Linked DNA regions of Homo sapiens: regions 2, 3 and 4 are each reported to be linked to region 1. The links are microRNA targets in miRTarBase. Many come from high-throughput screens and were not tested one by one. Region 1 holds a microRNA gene; each other region holds the end of a gene's coding sequence.
What was found. The annotated mature microRNA hsa-miR-6731-5p reads UGGGAGAGCAGGGUAUUGUGGA and lies in region 1 at 4,826-4,847, opposite strand. An mRNA with a match to its seed (bases 2 to 7 or 8) in the 3' UTR can be bound and repressed. Matches are read on the target gene's strand: a 7mer-m8 pairs with bases 2 to 8, a 7mer-A1 pairs with bases 2 to 7 and ends in A, and an 8mer does both.

Region 1 (7,115 bases):
GGTTCCCTCCCAGGGCTGCAAGTGGGGCTTCCAGAGGCCTGGGGTTGATTAGGAGAACCCAGGAGGTCTGTGGTTAACCCCTTCCCTCCTGCTGGGCAGACTCCGCTAGCCCTGCCCCTAGCGCAGGAGACACTCCTGGGGGTTGTGGGGATCTTGGGAGCCAGGGACCTGGAGCAGCTGCCTCTCCTCAGCCCAGGAAGAAACTACAGAAACTCTAAGGCCTTCAAAGGCCCAACTGCGGGCTCAGGGTCACTTCTCCTGCCCACGCCAAACCCTCGGCAGCCACACTCTGCTGGCTGCTCACTTCAGGCCCCTGCTCAAAGGTCACCTCTTCAGGAGGCCTCCCCGCCCCATCCCTTGTTCCATCCCTTGCACGCTCCACTCCTTCTCCCAGCTTTGTTTTTCTTCATAGGACTTCCTACTACCCGAAATGACATTAATGAATCATTTGCTTATTCATCAACGATTTATGGAGCAGCTGTGAAGGGCTCCTGCCCACATTCTCAGGGTCTAGCTATACCAGGGCCTGGCAAACCAGAGCAAAGAACTCTGCCCTTGTAGAGCATAAACAACAGGGGGCCGGGTGCGGTGGCTCACGCCTGTAGTCCCAGCACTTTGGGAGGCTGAGGTGGGCGGATCACTTGAGGTCGGGAGTTCAAGACTAGCCTGGCCAACATGGTGAAACCCTGTCTCTATTAAAAATACAAAAATTAGCTGGGTGTGGTGGCGTGTGCCTGTAATCCCAGCTCCTAGGGAGGCTGAGGCAAGAGAATCTCCTGAACCTGGGAGGCGGAGGTTGCTGTGAGCCGAGATCTTGCCACTGCACTCCAGCCTGGGCAACAGAGCAAGACTCCATCTCAAAAAACAAAACAAAACAAAATGGGAGAAATGAATAACAAATGAAACAAACTATCGGACTAGATAGCACCTTAGAAGGTGGTAGTGGTAAGTGCTCGGGGTAACCTTAAAGCCAGGAAGGAAAAGGGGGAGAGGTGAGGAAGGCTGTGTGTGTGCCACTTGAAACAGGCGGGCTGCTGAGAAGTGCAGAGGCTTTAGGGTGTGAAGGAGTGTGCCATGCATCTGGGGGTGTCCGGGGAGGAGTGTTCCAGATAGAAAAAAGAGCAGTGCAAAGGCCCCCGAGGCAGGAGTGTCCCTGGCAAGTTCAAAGACCAGCCAGGATACCAGGGTGGCCAGAGCAGGATGTGGGAGGGAGGGCAGGGGGTAACGGGCACAGGCTAGGGGGGCGTGAGGGCCTTTCCCCCACCGTGGTCCATGCCAGACTTGCCAGGTGTCACCGCCCCTCCTGCTGGGATCCTGGACCTGGCTCAGCAACCTGCTTCTTAACCAGCCCCCAGTGACTCTGAGGGACACCAGCACTGAGAACCTCAGAAACCGAGGCCACACAGGCAGGAAGCCACCAAGCCAGCCTTCAAACCCAGCTGGCCACCTGGCTGCAGGCCGGGCACGCTCTGCAGGGCACCAGAGGGGAACGACCCGGCCACAGAACCCACAGCCGGCCTCAGGGATCTACAGATTCCCAGTCCTTGGCTCCCAGGACCAGCCCCTACTCCCACTTCACCCCACAGCGGGCTCAGATTTCAGAGGGTCGGAGGTGGCAAAACAGGAAAAAAGCCGGGAAAGGAAGTCCAGGAGCACAAAAGGCCTGTAACAACCTGTGAAGGTTGTGGGGGCACTTCCTGGGGCCAGGCCCCGGTAAACTCAGTCAACCTTCACAGCGACTCCCCTAGGCAGACACCAATACCATCCATTTGACAGCTGAGCACACTGAGGTGAAAAGGCCCTTCCAAGTGGCCCTCACTTCCCGCAGCCCCCGGGTCGGAGCCCCCAGGGTGTGCTGACAGTCACCTTGGGCAAAAGGTTTTGCGCCCTGGCCTCTATCCTCTCCTGGGGTTGCCCAAGAGATCAGTTACTGGGGACTTTGCACAGGGCCTGACGCAAGGGAGGGGGTTGCTCAGTGACCAGGAGCCGCTGAGCTGGTCCCTTCACTCTTACAGATGGGGACGCTGAGGACCCGAAAGGCCAAGGATTTGTCCAGGGCCAAAGACAAAGGAGTGGGGCTGCAACCCAGGGTATGGGGGGGGACCTGATCTCAGGGCCAGGATATGCCAGGGACAGGAACAGGCAGGTCCTAAGGATGGGGGACCTAGTAGACTGCCCCCCGACTCCATCTCTGCTCTGTTCTGTAAATAAAACCACTGATCCAGCCGCTGCCGGGGCCCAGAGAGGGAGGTCACCTGTCTCAGGTGGTGCAGCAAGCCTGGCTTCTGACGCCGTGGGTCTCCAGGCCCAGCCTCTGTCCCTCCCTCTTGTTGCCTCGTCCTGAGCCACGCATTTACCTTCCAGCTCACCCCAGAAGGGGCCATCTCAGGTCTGGGAGACCCAGGCAGGGAAGAGCAGGCAGGGGATTCTGCTGGAATCTCCCACAGGCAGGGCTGAGTCTCCATGCTCATCCAGGGGTCCCAGCAGGGCAGAGTGGGCGGCTCTGGGGTGGGCTGGGCTGAGCATGGAGGGCTCTCAGAGGGGCCAACCTTGCCCGGTCCCTTGGATCTTCCCACCAAGCGTCAAGACCCCGTCCCGTGCCTCCCTCTTTCTGGAGTGGCTCCCCTCTTTCTGGAGTGGCTTCTGAGTGCCGCATCCCCACCCAGAGCCCAACTGAGGCTCCTGTCCATGCTGACCCTGCCCCTGGAGACATAGGGCAGGGCTGCCACCTCCTTCAATGGAGACTTGATACCTGCACCTCTATTACCAAGGCAGCCACCCAGCTGCTGCCCATGAGAGAGCTCACCGTTGACTAATGGTGGTGGTGGGAGTGCAGGAAGGGGGCTGGGTACTGAGGACGACAAAACGCTGCGGACCCAGTGACTCATGGGACCCCTCTGTGCTACGGCCACGTGCTGTCCACATGTCGCCCCTGATCTCCAGGTCCGCAGGGTGGGTGGCATCATCACACTTCATGGAGGAGGGAGCTGAGGCCCAGAGAGGTCAGTGACTTGCCCTAGGTCACACTGCAGATAACAGCCCTGGCTAAAGTGACGGATCCCTTGCTAACCCCCACCGCTAAGTGCTTTCTATAGATTAAGCCACTGTTTCCTCGCAATAGCATCATGAGGTAGCTGCTTGTGCGAATATCATTTTTCAGTTCAGGAAACTGAGGCACGGAGATGACTAGCCCAAGGACCCACAGCCAGGAAGGCTGGCTTGGAAACTGCTCTCTACACCATGGTGGTCTATGGCTCATGAGGGCTTCCCAGCCATCACCACCTTGAGACTCCTGGAGTCACTGATCCAGTTCTCAGATGACAAAACTGAGGCCACAAAGAAGACATGACTTGCCTAGGGTCATGAAGCCCAAGGCCAAGGGCATGGGCTGGTCTATGTCTGATCTCAGCAGGAGGGAACCAGCAGGAGTGTGGCCAGGGCAAGTGCTGGCTGGGAGCTGACGGTGCAGGCCTGAGGATGCGTGCCGGGGCTCAGGGCTGGCAGAGGTGACCCTGAGAGCCCTGGAGGGAAACTCTTCCAGGGCTGCTGGACTCAGCTCCAAGCCTTTCCCAAGTGGCCAGATGCTGGGATGGGCCCAGGAATTGGATGATGGGGTGTCAGGCCCAGCTGACTCCCAAGAAGGGAGGGGCCAGCCCAGGGCTAGGCCTCCTGCCCCAGGCCTCCTGCCCCAGGCCTGCTCAGCCTAGAATCTTGCCTCTGGGAAGACTGAAGCCTGGGGCGCCTTCCTGCTCCTTGCACAGCATTAGGTCCTATTCAGGTACCCAACTCCCTCAGGCCTGGATTCTCTCCTCACTGGAACTTGGGTGACCCCTCTGGCTCTGCTGTCATCAAGATCCCATTCAATAGTGACTGCTAAAAGGTCTTCTAAACTACAAAGGGTCACATTTCTGAGAAAGAGAGGGGTGGGCCAACCTTCAGTGCACCAAGCTGAAAATGCCTTGGGGAGGTGGGATGGAGCTCAGGAAGCTGGCTGGCTCTATTTCATTCATTCATTCATTCATTCAGTCAGTCAGTCAGTCAGTCATTCATTCATTCTGTGGACACAGAGCCTCAGCCTACCCTCCCACTTCCCCAGCCTTAATCTGACCTTCAGCAAGCAGAGAGAATTAAACACAAACTCGCTTTGATGGACCAGAACTCCCTGCTCATAGGGTCTGGGTGCCCGGACTCTGGGTGACCTGAGCAAGTCACATGCTAAGATTCAAAGACTCAGTTTCCAAGGAAGAGGCCTGGCCTCACAGCCAGACCAGCCCCTGACTTTTGATCACTCCTGCCCTCCATGCATCCCTCAGCCACCCGCAGAGAAGCTGGGGGCAGAGTAAAGCAAGCCTGGCTCAACCTCCACCCAGAAACACACAAGCACCCGACAAATGCCATATCTGAAAGCTTTCTCCATCCTTTTCCTTTCCTTGACTCCCTCAGTAGTCTCCATGGACAGTCATCTCCACTCCCAGCCTCCTCGCTGGCCTCCCACGGTCTCAGGCTAAGCCCAGAGGGTTTAGGGGTTTGCCAGCAGGCACGCAGTGTGTGGGGGCACAGAGCCAAGGACTGCAACCCCCCGAGGAGGGCTCCATCTGTCTGACCTAGCTGCTGTCCTTCCCGCACTGGACCCTCCTCCCCCGCGCAGGGGCTCAGGGGGCTCGGTGGCACTTACGTCTGGGCTCCCGGGGTCCGTCCACGGTCACCTTGATGGCTCGGTGGTAGGTCGCCACTTGGGTGGGGTTGGTGAACACAGTGATGGTCAGGGTGAAACTCTTCCCTGGGGAGAGTGGGGAATAGAGGCAGGTGGTTGGCACCTGGAGCTTCCACAATACCCTGCTCTCCCACCTGTATCTACCCCTGGAAGCCCCTAACTGTCAAGAAGGGGCACTCTGTCCTCTTTGAACATGGGCAGAAGATAGGGCTCTGGGTGAAGTTCAAGCTCTTGGGCTTGGCATTCAAGGCCCCTGGGGGTCTGACGCCAACTTTGTCAACCCCCCGCCCCATGCCGTGACCACCCTGGCTCATGTTCCCCTCTTCTTGGCCTTTCTGCTGTCTCTTCTATTCAGAGACCCACACGATTTTGTGGTGGGGAGCAGGATGGGTATATTCTATTTTCTGAAAGTAATTGGTGATCTTTGTAGAAAAATTCAAGAACATACAAAATATAAATAAAGAAGAAAAGACACCCCCCCCCCACGGTTCCACTAGCTGGAGATAGACACCGTTACCATTTGGTGTTTTCCCTTTCAGCTCTTTTTGTATGGGTTTGTATATTTACACAGTCGCAGTGGTACTAAAATACAGATTTTCATACTGTTTTTTTTTTCATTTAACCTCACATCAGAAGCACTTTCCCACGTCATTAAAACTCCATAAACTTCGTTTTTAATGGCTGCAAAATATTTCAACTCAAGGAAGCCTCCTCATCTTTTATTTATCTACCTCCTTACTCTCGGGTATTTACATCGTTGCTAATTTCTTATTGATGTGTGCAGCTGGAGCTGAAAAAGGACTGATTTGGGAGCTGCAGACATTTCTTCTGTAGACACAACTGTTATTTCCAGAATGTTCTATTTTTAGATAGACATTTGGCTCCAAAGTCTCCATTCAAAATTCCTGAGAGGGGAAAAAACTTTTAAAATACTACTTTTTTTTTTTTTTACCATTTAAAATAAAATGAAAGTGACCTTCTGTTTATAAAAATCTTTGTCTGCATCTCTGCTTATTTCCTTAGAAGAGATTCCAAGAAGCGGTGAGTGATTTCACGGCAGCAGAGGGTTGGGACATATTACGGGCGCGGATCCCTCTTGGAGTGAGATGACTCTCCGGAGAGATTTAGTCGTCACCCTCGCGTGTGAGGCTGCGTCACACCCCAGGGATGTGTCTATCAAGATGGAAGATCTTTTACACGCTCTTGATTTTGTTTGCCTTTTTTTCTATTACTAGTGAGAATGAAACTTTTTATATGATTATTATCCATCATAATCCAACACAAATTACTGCTTCATGTTCTTTTACTTTCCTGTGAAGGTTTTAGTGCCTTTTAAAAATTGCTATATATTAAGCTTGTTAATACTTTCCATGCTGTATTTGTGGCCATCAGTTTCCCCGGGCACAGGCCTGCACATTTTGCCTTCACACGCTGGGTGGTTTTTCATTTTCACTTCTATTTCTCGTTCTTCTATCGTTTTATGTTCAGACGGGTTTCTCCGTGTAGAAAGCAGTTTATGAAGATTTACTTTCGACAGTCTTCTCTCTACTTTCTACAGTGAATTCTCTGATGTGTCTGGGAGTTTGGGGGTCTGGGTAAGAGTCCTCCTCTCACCCTATTCTCTATTACGATCCACAGCCTCATGCTTTATGAGATTGGTGGCCGGGAGCGGGGGAGATTTGCGGATCCCCCAAGCCAGACTTTATCCCCCTATCCCTGCCTCTGGATCCCACGTACAGGCCTGGGAACTCCCTGTGGGTAGGGGCCAATGGTCTCGCACTCTCACCTGTACCCCAGGGCTGGCACAGGATGGTCAAGGAGAGAGGCTGCCCAAGCGCATCCCTCTGGTGTCCCCCTGACACGCCTCCAAAGTGAGCAGGTAGGTTTCAACAGCCCCACGTTGCAGGTGGGAGATGAAGCTCAGGGTGGAGACCAGTATCTCACAGTTCTCTTTGCATGGCCGGGTACTTGTTAGTCAACTGATCAAGTGAAAATTCTAGCCCCAGAGGCAGGAGAATCCGGAACAAAATTAAACCAGCCAGGCTGCCAGGAGCCATGCCACAGGACCCAAGGCCCTCTGAGACACCAGGGGGAATTTAAAGCTCAAGACCCACTGAGTGTCACTCCAGCTGGGAAATGAGGGGCTTCTCTGGAAGCCTTTTCCTAAGCCAGTCGGCTGAGGCAGGGATAGAAATTCTGACTGCACTTGCCCCCGGAGCCCCAGGTCAGAACAGACCTGGTCTCCCACTCTCAGGTCACAGGGGCCACTTTGTATGATTTCTGGAAGCAGAAGTGCAGATGGTCTAGGGAAGTGCCAGGCAGATGCCTCGGGCTCCCTGCCCGACCCCTCCTACTGCCTTTCCTCACTCTGAGGTCATTTCTCTGCTGGACCTCTTTCTCC
Region 2 (7,115 bases), not on the chromosome of region 1:
TGTTTTGTTTTTGTTTTTGTTTTTTGTTTGTTTTTTTGAGATAGGGTCTCACTCTGTTGCCTCAGCTGGAGTGCATTGGCACGATCTTGGCTCACTGCAGCCTCCACCTCCCGGGTTCAAGCGATTCTCCTCTCAGTCTCCTAAGTAGCTGGGATGACAGGTGCTCGCCACCATGCCCAGCTAAGTTCCCATAAGTCCAAAGAAGGAAATGGGGCCTTTTTTGGGTATGGCCCTCTTAGGGTAAAGCACCCCTTGGGCAGCCCACTGGGCACCCCTGACCCCAGCACCTCCCTTGTAGACTCAGGAAATCACTCAGCCCTTTTGATCATCCCGCCCCTGCTCACAGTCAACAGGGTTCCTATGCGTCCAGTTAGGCCCGGCCATGGGGATCTGGCCTTGTGCCCCCGTAGGGAAGACCAATGCAGAGGGCCAGTCACGGGATTGGTGAGTGTTACTTGGTACCTCCTGCCAGGGACACTGCAGCCCCCAACTGGGCCTAGCCTGCCCACCTGCAGGCCGTGTGAGCAGCGCACAGGGCTCCTCTGCCCACACCCAGAGGGGGCAGAAGGTGACCCTGCCTTTGTTCCCTCACCCAGAACATGGCTCTCTATGCTGACGTCGGTGGAAAACAATTCCCTGTCACTCGAGGCCAGGATGTGGGGCGTTATCAGGTGAGGGGCCAATGGTTCCCTTGCTAGGGGGCTCCCTGCTCCCGGGTGTGACCTGAAGCCCCAGGGGTGGCCGGTCAACCAGGGCCAGGGGCCGTGGGCTCTGGCTGCCGGAGTGCTGCAGTGTCGGCACTGGTGGTCAGGGTGGCCCCTCCGTGTCCACTCTGCCCACACTCTGCTCAACACCCAACCCAGGTGTCCTGGAGCCTGGACCACAAGAGCGCCCACGCAGGCACCTATGAGGTTAGATTCTTCGACGAGGAGTCCTACAGCCTCCTCAGGAAGGTGAGGACTCCTGTAGCCCACTGTGCTCCCCTGTCCCTGGGGAGCAGGATGGGCTGGGTTGGGAGGTGCTGGCAGCAAGTCCTGAGCTGGGTGGCCTTTCTGTGATCCTGTCCCTTCCTCAGTGTCTCTTGCCCATTTCTCTCCTTTCCTTTTCTGGGGCTTGGGCCGGTGTTCCTACCTGTCTTTCCCCTCCCCTCCCCACCCCCACACGCCAGGCACCCCTGACCCCAGCACCTCCCTTGCACCTCCCTTGCAGGCTCAGAGGAATAACGAGGACATTTCCATCATCCCGCCTCTGTTTACAGTCAGCGTGGACCATCGGGTGAGTGGCCTGGTCCCTCCTCCTTTTTGGGGTTGTTGGGCTGAGTGAAGGTTATCCTCTCCACAGCCCCAGCTCTGCTGCTGGGCCGTGATTGGCCAGCATGTCTTGGTTCCCCTGGCGGAAGGTGACCAGGGCTGGCTGGTCTGCTCACCTGTACTCCCCTGAGCTGGCTTGTGATCTCCTTTTTTTCAGGGCACTTGGAACGGGCCCTGGGTGTCCACTGAGGTGCTGGCTGCGGCGATCGGCCTTGTGATCTACTACTTGGCCTTCAGTGCGAAGAGCCACATCCAGGCCTGAGGGCGGCACCCCAGCCCTGCCCTTGCTTCCTTCAATAAACATCACAGGACCTGGGACTGCACAGGACCTGGGGCTGCTGGCTTGCGTTATTGTGCCTTCCCCCGACTGGGAGAGCTGGGGGCCCAGCGTCCTCTTGTCTGCCTGGCCAGCAGAGGCACCAGGCAGGAAAGGGGTGGGCTTTGGTCTAGAACTCCCGTCCCTCCTCCCAATGAAGCCCCCCGTCTGGTCCCCACAAAACCCTGTATCCACCTTCCCAGTGACTCTCTCCTGGTTCTGGTGAGGGCAGTGGGCTTGGCCACCTCCTCCCCAGGTGGCCCCACAGGCTCCATGGGGAAACAGCCAGCCTGGTCTTCATCACAGCTCCTGTGTTGGAAGCCCCGGGCCCATTCCGCACGCAGAGGGGTTTCCCTGCACTGCTTTCGGGCACAGCAAGTGCCCCCACCCTGCCCATGCGGCGTGCAGCTGTCTGGGCTTGGCCCCTCCATACTCCACACCCTGACCATGCCACCTGGCTTCCCGTGTGCTGTGCCTTCATGGGATATTGAGAAAATACACACCCATGGCCAGGTGTGGTGGCACACACCTGTAATCCCCACACTTTGGGAGGCCGAGGTGGGAGGATCACCTGAAGTCAGGAGTCTGAGACCAACCTGGGCAACATGGTGAGACCCTGTCTCTACAGAAAAAATAGAAAAATTAGCTGGGTGTGGTGGCATGCGCCTGTAGTTCAGCTACTTGACCTGGAGAGGTCAAGGATACAGTGAGTCGTGATCACAGCAGTGTGCTCCAGCCCGGGTGACAGAGTGTGAGACCTTGTCTCAAGAAAAAAACAAAACCCCACCTGTGAGGGGTACATCACTTCCTCCTAGAGACACCTCTCCCAAGAGCACCCGCGCCCTCAGGACACCAGGCAGGCATCCCGGCCTGGCACCACGCCTGGAGTTCATCCTGCACCTCTCCCATCAGCCTGATTTTCAGCTTGGCACATGCTGGCTCCTGACCAGCTAATGGTATTCCTTAGTGGCACTGAGGGCCCATGAGGCAGTGAGGGTCTTGGAGTCCAAAGGGACTGGGTGGAAATCCCAGGTGAGCCCTTCCCAGCCATGGGACCCAAGTCGGTTTGCTCAGCTGCGAGGCAGTGACAGTGCCTACTCCAAGGTGTCAGGGAGTCCACTGGGACCAGCCACCAAAGTCCTGACATCTGGGTCACCCATTGGCTGTTACTGGAGAGAAATGGAATTCTCCAGAGAGGCTGCCTTTTTCTTGTTTGTTTGTTTTTGAGACAGAGTTTCGCTCTTGTTGCCCAGGCTGGAGTGCAATGGCGCAATCTCAGCTCACTGCAACCTCCACCTCCCAGGTTCAAACAATTCTCCTGCCTCAGCCTCCCGAGTAGCTGGGATTACAGGCACCTGCCACCACACCCGGCTAATGTTTCGTATTGTTGGTAGAGACGGGGTTTCACTATGTTGGCCAGGCTGGTCTCGAACTCCTGACCTCAGGTGATCCATCCATCTCGGCCTCCCAAAGTTCTGGGATTATAGGCATGAGCCACCGCGCTCAGCCAAGGCTGAAAAGGAGGGAAGGCCCAAAACTTGCCTGGGAGGTAGGGGCTCCTCAGTACTTCAGCTCGGTGGCTAGAGAGAGCAGCACTGAGGGGCCGGGGGTGTCAGGAGCAGGTGAGGACTGCCTGTGACCTGGGTCTGTCAGAGTCTCGGGGAGGGGGTCATCTATATAAGCAGGGAGCCCTCTTCCCACCCCCAGGCCTTGGGAGGGGGGTTGGGAGGGGCCGGCTGCCAAGAATAGGTGGGCTTCTAGGAAGAGCTGGGCGCTCACCCCAGGACAGTGCAGCAGGAGCGTTGGGGCTGAGGGGCCACACCAGCTTTGCCAGCAGATGCAGTTTCTAGATTCCAGAGGAGACTCAGCAGCCTGTGCAGGGCGGGTGGCTGGGGCAGGCCGGGTGCAGCAGGCACCGGGGCGACTGTCGGGCGCCCGGTTGCTCTTTTTAGTTCTGGCTCCACCACGAAGCCTGATGGCCGTGGGACCCAGACGTGAAGTTGCTATTCCAGGGCATCAGTAGCCAAGTGCTGCCAGCCTTCCTGGCGCCACCTCTCCCTGAGCCAGCCAAGGGACTCCAGGCTCCAGGCCCATATGAGCCCACATCCCGTGAACACTGGAGGGCACCCCACCATTGGAAGAAGGGGGGTGCCTTTAGGACCATCCAAGTGAGCCCCCCAGCAGCTAGAGGGAGGCCAAGGGGACAGTTTGACCTCCATCTCCAGTCAACTCCGGCCAATTCCCTGTGGCTGGGCCCTTGGAGCCTTGTTCCCCCAAGGGACAGGGTTAGGGAGCTGGTCAAGGGTTGGATGTGCCAAGCCCTCATGGGGGTGAGGCCCTGAGGGGTGGGGGAAGCCATTATCTCCAGCCTCTGCCCTCTGCTCCCCTTCCTGCCATCCAGCCAGCAAGCCTCTTCCCCTCTTCCCTGCTGGTGGGGTGTGATATGCCAGGCTTTCCCTCCCAGAGCTGCTGTGCGGCAGAGAGGCAGCTGGCACCCTTGTGATCCAGCCTTCCCTGCAGCGGGACTCCAGGCTTCTGGGAACAGGCACTGGGACTTTTTCCCCCCACAGCCTTCTTAGCGTCTAATCCGTCACTGACTTGCTGCCCCGATCTCGGCACTTAAGAGAAGTTTAAACGAAAAAAAATTTTTTTTGAGACGGGGGTCTCACTCTGTCGCCGAGGCTGGAGGGCAGTGGCATGATCTTGACTCACTGCAACCTCCACCTCCCGGGTTCAAGTGATTCTCCTGCCTCAGCCTCCTGAGTAGCTGGGATCACAGGCACCTGCCACCACGCCCGGCTAATTTTTGTATTTTTAGTAGAGACGGGGTTTCTCCATGTTGGCCAGGCTGCTCTCGAACTCCTGACCTCATGTGATGCACCCACCTCGGCCTCCCAAAGTGCTGGGATTACAGGCGTGAGCCACCGCACCTGGCCTATATTGTCTTCTTTCTGGAGAATTTGAATGCCTCCTTGACCACTTCCGCTCCTTCATGGCAGCACTGCCCACTCCAGGGAGTGCCACTCCCATGAGAGGCTGTGCCCATGTTTTCTGCGGAGTTGTCTTTGAGGCCCTGACCCTGCCCAGCATTGAGCATGGCTCCTAGGACTTGATAGAGCCCGAAGGTTTGCTGAGAGCTCCCAGGATGGAAGGGCCCTGGCAACGACGCGGTTATTCATCTATCTGGCCAAGACATCCACTAGGTGCCTTCTGCAAACTGAGCACCTTGCTAGGCACTGTGGGATCACCAAATGGGGAGGGCAGCTTCCGCCTTCCAGAGTGGACGGCATCAGGCCCTGCTGGGAGGGATGGGGCTGGAACCCACTTCTCTGTGGCATGTGCCAGCAGCGGGCCCCACCTACGGTTTGGCCCATGGAGATGACCGTGGCCCTTGCCTGGAGGCTAGTCTGAAGTCAGGCTTCTGCCAGCCTTCTGCATCTGGTCACCACCCTGTGACTGTGACACCTCTGAAATGACTCAGGCGACTCTGGTATATCTCCTGGAGTGCCACACAATTGTCCATGGGAGGTCACAGTCACTGCTCCTGACATCCAAGACAAACCGAGGGCTGCAGCGTGGCTTTCAGTTGACCCTAACCCTGCCCCCCTCTTCCTTCTCCCACCCCAAACTGACAACTCTTTCCCCAGCCCAATAAGAATGAACACAGGGAGGCCACGATTCAACCAAGTACAAAGGCAGCTTGCTTTATTCTTGAGATGCAGGGGGGGAAGGGGTGGTGCAGTCTGTCTGCCTCCAATCTGGGGCTCTCCAAGCCTAAGGGGCACCCCACAGGCAGCCTAGTTCACACGTGCAAATCCTGAGGAGGTTGGGGGCCTCTCCTTCCCAGTCAGCCCACCGCCTCTCACTGGGGTCCAGGTTGCGGATCGCCACCAAGTCCTCCCCAGGCCGCATGGCCCGAGGTCTTCCACTGCTGCTCATGGGGCTTGGTTTCTAGAGCCCTCACCATCTAAGCACCTTCCTCAGTTCACTCAGAAGAGAAGCCCCTGCTCCAGATGGTGTGGGGCGCAGAACGGGCTCTGTGACTTCTTGGTGGACACCCTGCAGGACCCCTCCGTTCCTGCAGTCTTGCTCTCTCTGAGTCACTGGGGAAACAGGTGCCCCCCAGAGGCTCCCCGTTCCCACACCTCAGAGTGGAAGCCACCAGAACAGCTGCTTCCCATTCCTCCCACCTTTCCCTCCCCTTCCCTCCCATCCATCCCCAGCCCTCCCTCCCACTCTTCCTCCCCAACTCCCTTCCCAGCCATCAGTGGAGAGGGGAGTTCCACTTCTGCCAGGCTGCCTGAAGGAGCTGCCAGCCCCCAGGGCAGGTCCACAAAACAAAACAACTATTGGCAAGCACAGAAAGGGAGAAAAACCACAAAAATCAGGGGTGCCTTTGTCTACAAATAACTGCAGTGCGCAGCGGCGGGGAGAGGCCGCGCTCAGCAGCGAAGCCGGACACTCTCTTGTGCTCCTTTCAGCTCAGCTTCCCTGTCTGCAAGTACACGGGTCGGGTGGAGAGAGCACTGGGTGTGTGTGTGCGTGCACGTGCAAGCACACGCAAGAGCATGGGGGATGGGGAATGCACACGCACAGCTGAAGGGGTGCCCATCACAGGTGTGCCCCCAGTGCTGGCCACTGGCATGGTCACTTTACTTGGGCAGAAGGAAGAAAAGCGTCCCTTCTCCTCAGGGGCTTCTCTCTGCTAACAAAGCCCTGTGCGCACACCCAGACGAGGAGATGTGTGCGTGCGCACAGCGAGCACGCGCGCGCGCACACACACACACACACAATCTCTATAGGAGAGTGAGGGCCGGGGCCCCAGGGGGTTCCCTGGGCCTGGGCCGTGTACCCGCCCGGGCAGCTCACACGGTGGTGACTGAGAGAAGAGGGTTGTAGACCCGCTTGCCATCGGCGGAGCGCGCGCCGTGGGCCAGCATCTCCTGGATGGTGATCCAGTTGTCCAGGATCTTCTTGTTCCGCTTCTTCATGGTTTTGCGGTGGCTCAGGGCAATGATGTTGAGCTCGGGCTTGCTGTCGCCATTCTGCTGCTCCCGCAGGCACTCCAGCCGGCTCTGCATCATGAACTCGCGCCGCTTCCGCTGCTCACGGGCCCGGATCAGGTGCTGCTTCCGCTCCTCCTTGCTCCAGTAGCGGCCCATCTTCATCTCGCTCACCGCGTCGTCGTCGGTCGTCATACCGCTGCGCTCCTCCCGGATCTTCAGGGCACGGGCTTTCAGCAGCCGATCTCGCACGGGCCGCTTGGCCACGTAGCGGGTTCCGTCGCTGCGCACCTTCACTTTCCACTCCATGCGCGGTGCTTCAGTGGCCGCGGCCGCCACCCCGCCCACCCGAGGGCCACCGGCCAAGCTCAGGGGGCCGTGGCCCAGCTCCTCCAGGCCTCGCGTCGGGGCCAGCTGCACGCAGCTGTGGTAGTGCTCGCCCTCCTGGCCCTGGCCGCGGTGGCGCCGCGAGAGGTAAGGGCTGCT
Region 3 (7,115 bases), not on the chromosome of region 1:
CCTACCCCGCTCGCCCCGCGCCTCCCCGGGCCAATCGTTACGGCTCTTCGCGCCTCCTCGGCCAATAGGCGGTGGGCGGGGGCGGGCCCCAGGGTCGGACTAGGCTGCGCCGGGGAGTAAACAAGTGGCGGCCAGGGGCGGGCCGGGGGCGTGGGGCTCCGGGCCCCGCCGAGTCTGCTGCGGCTCCGGATGCGCGGGGTGGCAGTGGCCGGGAGGACGCGGGGCGGCGGGCAGGGCCTCCCAAGCCCGGCTGTCCTCGGCCCGTGCGCGGCGCCCGGAGTCCCACTCCTCCCGATGCTGTCCCCCGCGCCCGGAGGCCGAGCCAATTCTCTGGGAAGTTCCCGGCTTGGGAGCGGAGCGGCCGGTCGGAAGAACCTCGGGTGCTGGCGCGCCTGAAGTTGCAGACCAGACTGAAATGTGCGAGACATGTGCCTTTTTCTTAGGAAAGGCCCCAGGTACCAGAAAGGTTTTCAGCGCGCCGACCTACGGGGCTAAGAGGGCTGAAATAAGAACCAGTGACTGAGCGCCGGGAGGTTTAAGGTTTATGGAAGATGTTCATCGCGCCGTACCCTACTAGAGGTTTGGGGACGTGGGACACAGCCCCTGCGTTCCCGCCGCGGACCCCGTGATAAATACACAGACACACAAAATCACTACCGCCTTGAATCTGGACAGCTACCTCAGGTGGTTAATATCTAACAGGAGCAGAGTGGAGCTCAGAAAGACTCAGCGTGGGTGCTGGGTTCCGGCGCGACCAGCCTGATACCTAGGTCAGCATCTCAGCCACACAAGCAGGCGGCAGTTCTGTCAGGAATTACTACATCTGGTGATTCCACTTCTCATAGCTCACCGCTGGGAGAATAATTCCTCAGGATTAACAAGATCTATTCCAGAGGATCCTCACTGCTGAAGCGATTTTAGAAGACAGTGTGGTCTGTTGACAGTATGGAATATTCTTTACCCATCAGATATGATCTGTATGTGATTGGAAGGAAATAAACCAACTGCTAACAACACTTCTCTATAGATGTTCAGATTCAGTAATTTTTGTATTTTTCTCTACACTTTTGTTTTTTCAAATTTCCTAGCACAAGAAGACTTTGACTTACTGCACATGTCATTTTAAATGACCTTTATAAAGACTCTATAGAAACAATTTGCTATGTCATGAAAGTAACAATCAAAAAAAGTATGCACATTGTGGCCACAAAGTAAAACTTGTGTGGAAGGTAATGTGCAAAAAAAAAAAAAAATGAGTAAGCTGGTGGTGAGTGACCAAAGGAAAAGGCTTTGTAAAAAACTTTTTTTTTTTTTTTTGAGACGGAGTCTCGCTCTGTCACCCAGGCTGGAGTGCAGTGACGCAGTCTCGGCTCACTGCAAGCTCCGCCTCCCGGGTTCACGCCATTCTCCTGCCTCAGCCTCTCCGAGTAGCTGGGACTACAGGCGCCCGCCACCACGCCCGGCTAATTTTTTTGTATTTTTAGTAGAGACGGGGTTTCACCGTGGTCTCGATCTCCTGACCTCGTGATCCACCCACCTTGGCCTCCCAAAGTGCTGGGATTACAAGCGTGAGCCACCGCGCCCGGCCTGTAAAAAACTTTTTAAAAGATGGTAATAGCTGGCCGGGCACGGTGGCTCACGCCTGTAATCCCAGCACTTTGGGAGGCGGAGGCGGGCGGATCACGAGGTCAGGAGATCGAGACCATCCGGACTAACATGGTGAAACCCCATCTGTACTAAAAATACAAAAAATTAGCCAGGTGTGGTGGCGTGCACCTGTAGTCCCAGCTACTCGGGAGGCTGAGGCAGGAGAATGGTGTGAACCCGGGAGGCGGAGCTTGCAGTGAGCTGAGACCACGCCACTGCACTCCAGCCTGGGCGACAGAGCAAGACTATGTCTCAAAAAAAAAAAAATGGTAATAGTGGCCCGGCGCGGTGGCTCATGCCTGTAATCCCAGCACTTTGGGAGGCTAAGGCGGGCACATCACGAGGTCAGAAGATGGAGACCATCCTGGCTAACACGGTGAAACCCCGTCTCTACGAAAAATACAAAAAATTAGCCGGGCTTGGTGGCGGGTGCCTGTAGTCCCAACTACTGAGGAGGCTGCGGCAGGAGAATCGCTTGAACCCGGGAGGCAGTCGGAGGTTGCAGTGAGCCAAGATCGCACCACTGCACTCCAGCCTGGGTGACAGAGCGAGACTCCATCTCAAAAAAAAAAAGGTAATAGTGTATTTTTAAAAGATGGTAATAGTGTCTCTTCTGCATTGTAAACTCAGAGCTGTGACTAGGCCAATGGGGCATCTCCGTGTTTTTTATTATTCAGGTGATGTTCTGTGCCCTTTGAGTTTACCTTACTTTTGCAGATTACAGAGTAAGCCGCCAGCAGAAGCAATAAAGACATTACTGGGCCTTTGCACTGCAACATCATGCCTCTGAAGAAAAAAAAAGTGCAAACATTACAATAGATTCAGCTCCTTTAGTTCTCACTTCTGTCTCCACGTCAAGATAAAATACTGACATTGAAATAGAATGGATGACATGCTTGAAATGAGTCATGTGCCTGAAAAGTCATTAACAAACAACAGTTCCAGAGAAAAGCCAGGAAAAACTCCCCATGGATTTAGAGACAGAGCTCTCACCTTCAACAGGTTACTTTTTCCTTGTCTCAGGCTTCCTTGGAAAACAACCTATAACTAACTTTCTGGGAGTAAAGCTTCAGGTGGAAGAACAATTGGATCAAACTTGGAAAACGTAAGTGGTCATTTAAATTGTCAGTACCCAAAGATACAAAAAAATCCAATATGGGGCACGCAAAGCTGCTCCTGGAGTGGTTTCCCTTTTGCAGTAGAGGCCTCAACAGTCCTTGACCAGCTTCTCCTGTGGCTGTGCCATTCTTTACCCCACCCCTGGTTAGCATCAGTGGAGACACAGCCACTTGACCTTCAGACCACTGTTGGCCCTCCCTGGGCCGTTTTCCTTACTGGTCTTTTGGATCAAGACATTTCCATGTTATATCTAAATATTTATTCTTGAGTTTTAAACCCACCGGCTAATTCCTGCTTCTCTCTCAAGCCTTAGCTCATATGCTGCTCCCTCCGAGTGATCTTCCTTGACCCTCGACTAGGTTGGCTCAAGGTTATTGGAGCTATGTGCTCTCCCCATATCATCCAGTACATCCCCTGTTGTAACATGTATTCATTTATTCATTCAACAAGTATTTCCTGCATTGAGTCCCTGCAGTGTAGCAGGTACTGTTCTAGTGTTGGGACTGTAGTGGGAATAAAATTAAGTCCCTACCCTTGTGAGGCTAGATTCTAGCGCAAGGACGATAGAAAATACCCAAGTCTATATTTCAATATTTGGTAGTAAGTGCTATGGAGGGAAAAAGGCAAGATAAAGAGACAGATGCTGGGGTGATGCTGATTGAGATGGGCTAATCGGAAGCCTTCTCAAGGAGATGGCATTTGAACTGAGGCTTAAATGAAATAAGGGGTGAGCCTCGCCAAGACTTAGGAGATGTGTCCCAGGTCAGGGAGACAGCAAATGGAAAAGCTGTGTGTGACTGTCCCCCTTGGGGTGGTGGGAAGGTTCTTCATTAAATTCACAGAGGGGTTGGTAGTACCTGGCGTGCGAAAGGGATTTAAACGTGTGGAACAGATGGATGAAGATAATTTACAAATCTTGCCCCAGACACAGACGTTGGCATGTGTACCTCTTTTATCTGGAATATCCTCTTTTCTTTGTTGCCTACATAGATGCCCCCAGTTTGTCTACTCCATTGAACTTTGCATGCTTGGAGCCCCTGGCCTCAGCACACTCAATCGCACAAGCCAGCCTGCAGCACCTGTACAGCACCATGGGAGTCCCCTGCAGAGCTGCAACTTTGAGAGTGGGTATAGTGACGTAACTCAGGTTCTTCAAGGGATGAACACTCCAACTTTGAAACCACTAGCCTGTAGGTGTGGACGAAAAGGCAGCTGCATGTTATAAAACAATATTACTCATACTTTTGGATCAAGCTTCTTTCAGTCCCATGGGTAGGGAGGAGGGGCAATTTGCTGAAGCCCACTGCCCTTCCAGTACTCACAAGCCAAGGGCCCTATGGGATCTGTTTCACAGGACTCATGCTTATGGCAGCTGAGCACATCTGTCCTGTATGTCTGCCAGCAGCCACGTCCCTCTCACTCCTGTGACGACAGCCTTGACTATATTTAGAAATTCCATTTCTGATTGCATTTCACTGCTGAATGGTCCTAGAATCCTTTATTGCCCTTGTCCCATCACAAGAGACAGCCAGCCACAGCCACTTTTATCTCAACAACATACTGAATACTGACAGAACAAACAGGCAAGTTGTAGATTCACCAGGATTTATACATATTTGATTTTTTATTACCAATCAAAAATAAATTCCATATATCGTTTAGCAAATATCATTGTTTTGTGACAAAAGACACAAGAGTCATAACAACAAAACTCCCCGAGAGTCAAACTCATAACGCCAAAATAAATCACAAAAATATACAAATTAAAATATTATGCAAAATAAATACGGCGGCTGTCACCTGCCTACCCATTTGGATGCCCTTTGCAAAGGTCTCCCTTACGTGGAAGACACAGTGGGTGGGCCAGTTCCAGGGTATGGCTCATCCCAGGAACCAGAGGTTGAAATAGGAAGGGAAAAATTGCACTGGGAAGAGGAAGTCATCAGACAAACAATATTTGGAAATAATGATGACCCTCTGTGAGAAGGGATGATCAATGGGCCAGGGAAGAGGAGGAGGGCCAGCCAGTTGGTGGTAACCGTGTGCACAGAGGTCACTGTGGAGGTGTGTGCACCTGCCCCTTTTGCTTCACATACCCCCACCAATGTCTTTTGCTCTACCTGGCAGTCAGGGCTGTCAGGAATATAGCTCTGCCAGCTTCCAAAAGGACTTGGGAGCAAGCTGCTCCTGTACAAGACTAAGGGCTTTCCCCCACTAGGGAACAAAAGTCTGGTGTCTTTTTTCCTTACAGTTGAGAACCCATGGGTGTCACCACCTTCTCTCCAGGCTTCCAGGAGTCAGTTCTATGGCTAGGAGACCTCAGACTGGCCAGGGGTAGGCATACTTGGTGCAAGACAATCCCTGGTCCTAAGAGTTAGGATACTCTAGGCACCTGGAGAGCAGGGCACTTGGGGTGAGGAAAGGAGTGAATAAATAATAATCAGGCGGAAGGCCTGCAGAGTTTCACCTGCCAGGCTCTCGGGACCCAGCTCCTGCTGCACCCAGTGGAAGGACCAACATGGACCTTGGTCCCACAGCCTCCCCAACCCTGGGAAGCCTGGAGTTTTGCAGCAGGGCCTGATTCAGCCCCAGGGAAGAGGCGCCAGGGCAGGAATTCACATGAGGGCAGAGCTCTTAGTACAGTACTACTAACTTCAGCAAGGGCAGGATGACCTCTCACGCTAGGATCACACGTGTGAGAAAGAGGGGCTGCAAGCTGCATGCCTTTAGGAGGAGCCCTCCTCTCCTGAGGTTCCATAAGTGGGTGGATAAGGCCAGGTGAGCCTTGCCAGCCACAGAGGAGAGGACATAAAGAACCTGCTTCCGTGGCTTCCCACATGTCCTCTTGTCTCCACCCCCAAGAGGGACTGAAGCTTGGGGATTCGAAATAAGGGGTCTGGGAAAAAGGCTTCAGTCAACAAGTCAGCCTTGACTGTCATTGTGGGGCGGGGGTGGTACTGACTGCTAACAACGCAGATGCTGATGACTGACAGTTCCTTCTGGAACCAAAAGGAAGAACCCAGACAAATCACCTCCAACACAGATGCCCTCCCGCCGAGGGAGAACCTTTGGTAAAAGTGAGGGCAGGGCCTGGGGAGCAGGGGTGAGCAATCAAAGGCCTGAGACCCTGCCTAACACTTGAGTCAGCCCTGTCACAAAGGGCCAGTTGTCCAAAGGGCCAGATGGGAGGCAGGGTGGGGATGTGTCCTCAGCTGAGTCCCGACTCACCAGGAGAGGCTGTCGGCAGAGTTCTAGATTTCTGGGTACAGCAGTTGACAACAGATGTGCTCCTCTGCATAGCTCAGATTATCATGTCCCTGATCACAGCTACCCAGGAGCTCGTGGCCTCAGCGTTGTCAGATAAGCTACAGCGCAGGTGCTCAGGCAGCTGATCTCCATGCCATTTTGTTCTTTGCTTCTGTGAAGAGCTGTCTTCCTCCCAACAGATAAGCCTCCACTGGCAGGCTCTGGGATCCCACCTCCGGAGGAGGAGGAGGAGGAGGAAGGGAGAGCTCCCTGAATCAGGGACACAAGCTGGAAGGCCATGGCTGGGAACAGATTATGTCCGTTGCTTCCCGGGACAAGAAACCCTTCCTCTTTTATAGTTTTTAGGAAAAAAATATTTTTTTTTTAAATAAAGTTCCTTAACCCTGTCTTCCCTTCCCAAAATGATATTTAAAAAAAAGTGATGAGCCTACTTTAGAAATTCTCTCAGTAAAAAACAGCCTTTGCTTACGGTAGCTGGCCCACTGCCCCCCCTATCCAGGGCTGGACAGTGCCACCTCAGAGCTACTCAGAGGTCCCTGGCAGAGGCCAGATCCCCCATAGGCTGGGGGCCATCTGGCTGTTCAGTCAGACAGGCTATCTATCCGTATCCTTTCTGGACTAACAGGTTCCCTCTCTTCATGTGGGCCCACTGGGGAGGCCCCCGCAGGGTGGGCAGGGGGCCCCGGGCCCTCCTGTCAGATGGCATTCTCGTGGGAGGCTTTGTGCAGCAAGGAGTTACGCTCGTTGAGAAGAGTTGTGGTCTCGTCCACCACAGGCAGCTCAGACTTCTCGGCCAAGTTCTCCATGTGGGTGGTGCACCCGTCTATGGGAAACTGAGGGCTGTTCTCCATGCGAGAAGCCAGCAGCCCGTTCTGGTACTGCTGCCGAGTGATCTGCATGAGGAAGGGATGAGTTCATGGAGGGAGGGGCTGGGAGGCAGACCCTATCACCAGGCCTGGAGAAACAGGGCCAGGATTGAGGCTGTGAGTTGAGAGAGAACATGACCAGTCAGCGTCTCTGGAAGCCCTTACAAAGAACAAGGTGCACGAACAAGAGAAGAAAGCATCTCAGGGCTGGGCACA
Region 4 (7,115 bases), not on the chromosome of region 1:
AACTTCTAATAATCCTGAATCTTTTTTTGCATAGCATATATTCCCTGTTAGTATATGTCCCATTATATATCCATCTGTGGTATCTATGTTCCCCTTGCTAGGAGTGAGCTCTTTAAGAGTGAGGACTGTGCCCTAGTCATCTTCATATCCCTGATACCTATGTGTAATATGTTTTCAATGAAGGATTTTTGTTTGTGAACTCAGAGCTCAAAGTGTAATTCCAACCACTTCTCCCTATCCTTTGCTCCTCTTTTAAATGGGGACTAATGATACCTTCCATACCTGCTTTACAAGGTTGTGTGAGGCTCAGCATCTTAGAGCTAATGAATGAATATGTTTTCTAAACTGTTGTCTTATCTCTTCCCCTAGGACAATCATGAGGAAGACTATTTTCTGTATGTGGCCTACAGTGATGAGAGTGTCTATGGGAAATGAGTGGTTGGAAGCCCAGCAGATGGGAGCACCTGGACTTGGGGGTAGGGGAGGGGTGTGTGTGCGCGACATGGGGAAAGAGGGTGGCTCCCACCGCAAGGAGACAGAAGGTGAAGACATCTAGAAACATTACACCACACACACCGTCATCACATTTTCACATGCTCAATTGATATTTTTTGCTGCTTCCTCGGCCCAGGGAGAAAGCATGTCAGGACAGAGCTGTTGGATTGGCTTTGATAGAGGAATGGGGATGATGTAAGTTTACAGTATTCCTGGGGTTTAATTGTTGTGCAGTTTCATAGATGGGTCAGGAGGTGGACAAGTTGGGGCCAGAGATGATGGCAGTCCAGCAGCAACTCCCTGTGCTCCCTTCTCTTTGGGCAGAGATTCTATTTTTGACATTTGCACAAGACAGGTAGGGAAAGGGGACTTGTGGTAGTGGACCATACCTGGGGACCAAAAGAGACCCACTGTAATTGATGCATTGTGGCCCCTGATCTTCCCTGTCTCACACTTCTTTTCTCCCATCCCGGTTGCAATCTCACTCAGACATCACAGTACCACCCCAGGGGTGGCAGTAGACAACAACCCAGAAATTTAGACAGGGATCTCTTACCTTTGGAAAATAGGGGTTAGGCATGAAGGTGGTTGTGATTAAGAAGATGGTTTTGTTATTAAATAGCATTAAACTGGAATTGACAAGAGTGTTGAGCATCCCTGTCTAACCTGCTCTTTCTCTTTGGTGCCCCTTATCTCACCCCTTCCTTGGAATTTAATAAGTCTCAGGCATTTCCAATTGTAGACTAAAACCACTCTTAGCATCTCCTCTAGTATTTTCCATGTATCAGGACAGAGGTGTCTTATGTAGGGAGGGGGCAAGTATGAAGTAAGGTAATTATATACTACTCTCATTCAGGATTCTTGCTCCCATGCTGCTGTCCCTTCAGGCTCACATGCACAGGAATGCTACATGATGGCCAGCTGCTTCCCTCCTTGGTTATCATCCACTGCAGCTGCTAGTTAGAAAGGTTTGGAGGGATGACTTTTAGTAAATCATGGGGATTTTATTGATTTATTTTCACTTTTGGGATTTTGTGGGGTGGGAGTGGGGAGCAGGAATTGCACTCAGACATGACATTTCAATTCATCTCTGCTAATGAAAAGGGTTCTTTCTCTTGGGGGAAATGTGTGTGTCAGTTCTGTCAGCTGCAAGTTCTTGTATAATGAAGTCAATGCCATCAGGCCAAGGAAATAAAATAATTGCTTACCTTAAAAATCCACTGAGTTCAGCAATGTTGCCTTTATTTTGTATGTATTAGAATAGATGATATGTGGACTCTCTGAACAAAAGAACTAAGTGGGGAAAGCTGTTAGTGATGAATGTTCACATATGGTCAGACCCATATATGTTTACTCAGTTCTTTAGTGAGCAGGAGTTGCTGTTCAAGGGTGAATGTTATGCTGGGGCAGTGTGCCTGCTGCGTTGGTGGTGTGTGTGTGTGTGTGTGTGTGTGTGTGAGAGAGAGAGAGAGCTTTTTCTCCTCCAAAGATAAGTGCATCGTCACTGTTCTATGTGTTTCTGAAAGCTGAAGGTGGAAGACTGCCTACGTAGAGGTAAGGGGTGGGCTGTGCTAATTACAAATGCAGATGTCTAGGCCATCTCCCAGATTTAGCTGACTCAGAATCTCAGCGTTAGGTGTCTAATTTTTAACAAGCTCCTGATATGACTGCTGCACACTGAAGTTTGAGCGTCATTGCTTTTTGCACCAGGTTTTGCTGTAGGTCCCAACCACACCTTACTCTCTCCATCACAACTTGGTCAGTCTGAAGCCACCATCTCCCAAAGCAGCAAATAGCACCTAGGCAAGGCTCCCGGCATCAGAACAAGCTTGGTGTCTTCTGACCATATGAAAGTCTTGTTCAGTTATTCAGGAACGAATATGTGGGTGGGCTTTGAGCATGCAAGTTAAATGAGAGAATGGAAAACAGATTAGTGAAAACTTCTTTCATGAAAAACCTTAAGACCCATCTCTAACCCTCTCTAATCTCTTGCAGTCATATCCCCAAGTGATGTCTACCTCTGTAGAGAGTTAGGGAATATATCAAGGTCACCAAAAAGGAAGTAGGAAGTTATAAAAGATCCATGCCAAGCAGCACCACATGCAGAAAATTATGTAAGATTACGGAATTTTGATGAAGGCATTGAAAATGGACACTTGTCCCTAATGACAAAAATATCAAGGTGCTGTTCCCTGATAAAGCCAAAAGGAAGCTAATATTTGAGTTTAAGATGTGAACTGTATTTTGAAACTAACAGATTTATCCATGACCTAGGAATGAGACTGGATGAATATTTGAAAGAAAGCAAAAAACACATGGCGGCAGATCCTAACCCTCTGTACACATCTGAAACAGTCCCTGTAGGGCAAGAGACTGTAGGCCATTGCTAAACCAAAGAGATCGTTTGAATTTAGGGGCTGTGTCTCTCCCAGGTAGGCTTTGCTTATTGTAGGCCTACTTCCTGGATTTTCCTAAGGAACAAATTTTGTCCTTGGATAGGACATTACATATCATTTTCGACAAGCTGTCTGATTTTACGAAACAGTGGAGTTTTTAAATAACAGCCAAGTTCAGAGGCAAAGTCACACCAGCTGTTGTGGAAGTGTGTCCGGAATTGGTGGGTTTTTGGTCTCACTGACTTCAAGAATGAAGCCGCGGACCCTCGCGGTGAGTGTTACAGCTCTTAAGGTGGCGTGTCTGGAGTCTGTCCCTTCTGATGTTCAGATGTGTTCGGAGTTTCTTCCTTCTGGTGGGTTCGTGGTCTCGCTGGCTCAGGAGTGAAGCTGTAGACCTTCGCGGTGAGTGTTAACAGCTTTTAAGGTAGCGCGTCTGGAGTTGTTCGTTTCTCCCGGTGGGCTCGTGGTCTCGCTGGCTTCAGGAGTGAAGCTGCAGACCTTCCCAGTGAGTGTTACAGCTCATAAAAGCAGCGTGGACCCAAAGAGTGAGCAGTAGCAAGATTTATTGCAGAGCAAAAGAACAAAGCTTCCACCTTTTGGAAGGGGACCCAAGCAGGTTGCCAATGCTGGCTGGGGCTGCCTGCTTTTATTCTCTTATCTGGCCCCAACCACATCCTGCTGATTGGTAGAGCCGAGTGGCCTGTTTTGTCAGGGCGCTGATTGGTGCATTTACAATCCCTGAGCTAGATACAAAGGTTCTCCACGTACCCATCAGATTAGTTAGATACAGAGTTTCCACACACAGGTTCTCCAAGGCCCCACCAGAGGAGCTAGATACAGAGTGTCCATTGGTGCATTCACAAACCTTGAGCTAAACACAGGGTGCTGATTGGTGTGTTTACAAACCTTGAGCTAGATACAGAGTGCCGATTGGTGTATTTACAATCCCTGAGCTAGACATAAAGGTTCTCCAAGGCCCCACCAGAGCAGCTAGATACAGAGTGTCGATTGGTGCATTCACAAACCTTGAGCTAAACACAGGGTGCTGATTGGTGTATTTACAATCCCTGAGCTAGACATAAAGACTCTCCACGTCCTCACCGGAGCAGCTGGATACAGAGTGTCGATTGGTGCACTCACAAACCTTGAGCTAAACACAGGGTGCTGATTGGTATATTTACAATCCCTGAGCTAGATATACTCTCCACATTCCCACTAGACTCGGGAGCCCAGCTGGCTTCACCCAGTGGATCCCACACCGGGGCTGCAGGTGGAGCTGCCTGCCAGTCCCGCGCCGTGCGCTCGCATTCCTCAGCCCTTGGGTTGTTTGTTCCTTCCCGGTCGATGGGACTGGGCGCCGTGGAGCAGGGGGTGGTGCTCGTCGGGGAGGCTCGGGCCGCACAGGTGCCCATGGAGTGGGTGGGAGGCTCAGGCATGGCGGGCTGCAGGTCCCGAGCCCTGCCCCGCGGGAAGGCAGCTAAGGCCCGGCGAGAAATCGAGCGCAGCGCCGGTGGGCCAGCACTGCTGGGGGACCCAGTACACCCTCCGCAGCCACTGGCCCGGGTGCTAAGTCCCCCATTGCCCCGGGCCAGCAGGGCTGGCTGGCTGGCTGCTCCGAGTGCGGGGCCCGCCAAGTCCACGCCCACCCGGAACTCCAGCTGGCGCGCAAGCGCCCCACGCAGCCCCGGTTCCGCTCGTGCCTCTCCCTCCACACCTCCCTCCAAGCTGAGGGAGTGGGCTCCAGCCTTGGCCAGCCCAGAAAGGGGCTCCCACAGTGCAGTGGGGGGGCTGAAGGGCTCCTCAAATGCCACCAAAGTGGGAGCCCAGGCAGGGGAGGTGCCGAGAGCAAGCGAGGGCTCTGAGGACTGCCAGCATGCTGTCACTTCTCAGCAGGCTGGATTGGATTTGGCACTTCTTTACTGAAGGTCAGTTCTTCTCAGCGCCGCTTCCATGTTTTCTGCTAGTCAAGCTTTTAATGCTTCTTTGTGCCGTCAGGCCATTGTGAGGCTTGTCATGAGCTAAAAGTAGTTTAAGAAGCCCTTCGTTAACCTGGCCCAGTGTTCCATGTTAAGATTAGTTAGATTGTTAGTTAGATTGGCTTACTCTGATTGACTTGCTTCTCTCTGGGGATAAAGGTTGAATGATGTGTCAAATGAGATTAGGGAGGCCAGTATGACATGAACATCAAAGATGAGTGAGTCCTTAGCTCTTCCATACACTTCGGTAGAAAGATTTCAAATATATGTAGGGTAAGCATACATCTTAAGTTTGCCAAAGATAGTCTTGAATTATGCCGGTTGTCCTGATTGATTTATTAGTGGTTCCTTATTTCACTGTCACATGACCCCCCCCCCCCCATTGGACGAAATATGTGGTCACTCTCTATGTAGTATAAACATTGAAGCCTCTTCCATCAAGAGAGACACAATGCCTGTGCCATCCAGGTTTAGTGCTCCCCAGTATGGGTCTTACCCTGTCAGGTGGAGGGAGACTAGACAAATCATTCTACTTGTGAATGGCAGTCTATTCTGCTTTTCTTGATTTTTCCCCCAACCCTGACTTGTTTTCCTCTTTCAAAGCATTGTGCTTTCAAAGCATTGTTAAATTTTTTTACTGTATTGTGCAATCAGAAGTTAAGATCGCAAAAGAACAAAGCAAATTATGATTAATGTACAGTAGTAACCAGGCAGACAAGATCACTGCCTCATGCACTGCCTCATCACTATAAAATATGAATAGAGCCCCCCCAGAGTGGTGCAGTGCAGTCCCCTGGTCACTGCAGTGGCCCTTTGGACACAAGTCTTGTCAGTTACAGTTGTCTTGAGAGTGTTACACTTATTAAGCTTACAATTCTGCATTCTATTGGTACTGGTACCATCAGATAGAACAGGTGTGTTGTAATTTTGAAGTGGTGTGTGGAGGGGGGCCATGCATATCCACCTGCCCGTGGGTACAGCATCAAGTCAGCTGTAATAATGACAAATTCAGTCATTTTGGAAAATGAACTAGTTGATAAATTCATATTAGTTCTTATACAAAATTTGTAATTAACTATTTCTAGCTGTGGTTTCTTTTGGATGTTTTTGCTTTGCCAGATTTAAACAAGCTACAAACATTTATTTAACTTTAGTTATTTTTAGCTGCATGAAACTACCAAATATTTCAGAAACAAGTCCATTTTGCCTTTGGTGGTTCTGAGTCCAGGCTGTCTGAGTAATGGAGAATTCCCTCCTCACCTATGCCCACTGCCCAGCGACCCACCCCTTTGTTTACCTTTGATAAGTAGCTGAACAACAACAACAAAAAGTCCACACACACAAATACTAGAATCCCTGTTCCAAAAGCTGTGACTGATGATCTCAGCTTGGTTACCCTGTGTAGGGCCCTGCCTCATTTTCTTTTCCTTTTTTTTTTTTTTCCTCCTGGTTGTGGGCACTTCTTAAGTATATGTACCCATGGCTAGATTATTTTCAGAGTTTGAAATAACAGGAAGTTATCACCCTTAAAAGTAGTCAAATGACATTTCACTATGCCATTGTGCAGGTGTGCATGTTTTCAACAGTGACTAACAAAAGACAAGTCATTCTCCTGGTGTGTTTTCATCACGGTGGGGCCATCTATTTCAGTAGTTCTGTTTTCAAAAGCAGTGTATTTAAGACCCTTAGGACTTCTGTTTAGAAGTACTTAGCTCCTAAAACTTGAATAAAGTGATCCTGAACTTTTGGGTGAGAAGTTGAAACATGTTTTCTATTTTTACACTTTTAGTAGGCTCAAAGTTGCTTCATACCATTCAGTAAAAGAATGATGATGGCTTTATTGCTTCTTTAAGCAATATGCACATGGTATTCAAAGGATAAAAGTAACAATAAGCCATATTTTACGTGCTAAAATTGGCTAGTTCCTAACCTCCTTCAAGTCTTAGATACTATGTCAAGGAGACCAACTCTGAACATCTCTAATATTCAACACCTTCCCCCTACTTCCCTTTCTCCTAGTCATTCTCAACCTTGGTCTTTGTCTTTTTTGCTTCGTAGTGATCATGTAACATAATTTTCTAGTTTATTATGTCTTCTCTCTCTAGATCCTGAGGTGCAGGAAGGCAGAAACTTTTTGTGTAGTGATATACAACAATTGGTCAGAACAGTGAATGGCATATGGTTGGCATTCAAAAATATTGAAATAGTAGTTTTTGATAGGACTGAACCACTAGGCAACTTAAATTAT

Region 2: the mRNA of PDZD4 is a reported target of hsa-miR-6731-5p. Seed matches in the 3' UTR shown: 7mer-m8 at 6,055-6,061.
Region 3: the mRNA of CNNM4 is a reported target of hsa-miR-6731-5p. Seed matches in the 3' UTR shown: 7mer-m8 at 6,272-6,278.
Region 4: miRTarBase lists GABARAPL1 as a target of hsa-miR-6731-5p. Seed matches in the 3' UTR shown: 7mer-A1 at 956-962.

The regions. Positions count from the first base shown.
Region 1 is chr1:24,914,565-24,921,679 of GRCh38, forward strand. It overlaps MIR6731 (microRNA 6731), which reads right to left and starts at 4,852; the gene lies at 4,781-4,852. It overlaps RUNX3 (RUNX family transcription factor 3), which reads right to left. Exons shown (of 5, transcript NM_004350.3): 3 at 4,676-4,780. RefSeq lists an enhancer at 1-431.
Region 2 is chrX:153,796,862-153,803,976 of GRCh38, forward strand. PDZD4 (PDZ domain containing 4) reads right to left here. Exons shown (of 8, transcript NM_001303512.2): 8 at 5,305-7,115. The coding sequence ends at 6,492. SSR4 (signal sequence receptor subunit 4) reads left to right here. Exons shown (of 6, transcript NM_006280.3): 3 at 597-671; 4 at 864-953; 5 at 1,210-1,275; 6 at 1,468-1,638. The coding sequence ends at 1,572. Among named protein-coding and RNA genes, the nearest start is that of SSR4, 5.8 kb to the left of the region's middle. RefSeq lists a cis regulatory region at 3,848-4,122.
Region 3 is chr2:96,809,131-96,816,245 of GRCh38, reverse strand. CNNM4 (cyclin and CBS domain divalent metal cation transport mediator 4) reads right to left here. Exons shown (of 7, transcript NM_020184.4): 7 at 4,372-6,926. The coding sequence ends at 6,729. It overlaps CNNM3-DT (CNNM3 divergent transcript), which reads left to right and starts at 2,589. Exons shown (of 2, transcript NR_149141.1): 1 at 2,589-2,752; 2 at 3,757-4,007. RefSeq lists a silencer at 1-371 and an enhancer at 712-831.
Region 4 is chr12:10,221,418-10,228,532 of GRCh38, forward strand. It overlaps GABARAPL1 (GABA type A receptor associated protein like 1), which reads left to right. Exons shown (of 4, transcript NM_031412.4): 4 at 370-1,711. The coding sequence ends at 435. Among named protein-coding and RNA genes, the nearest start is that of GABARAPL1-AS1, 9.9 kb to the left of the region's middle.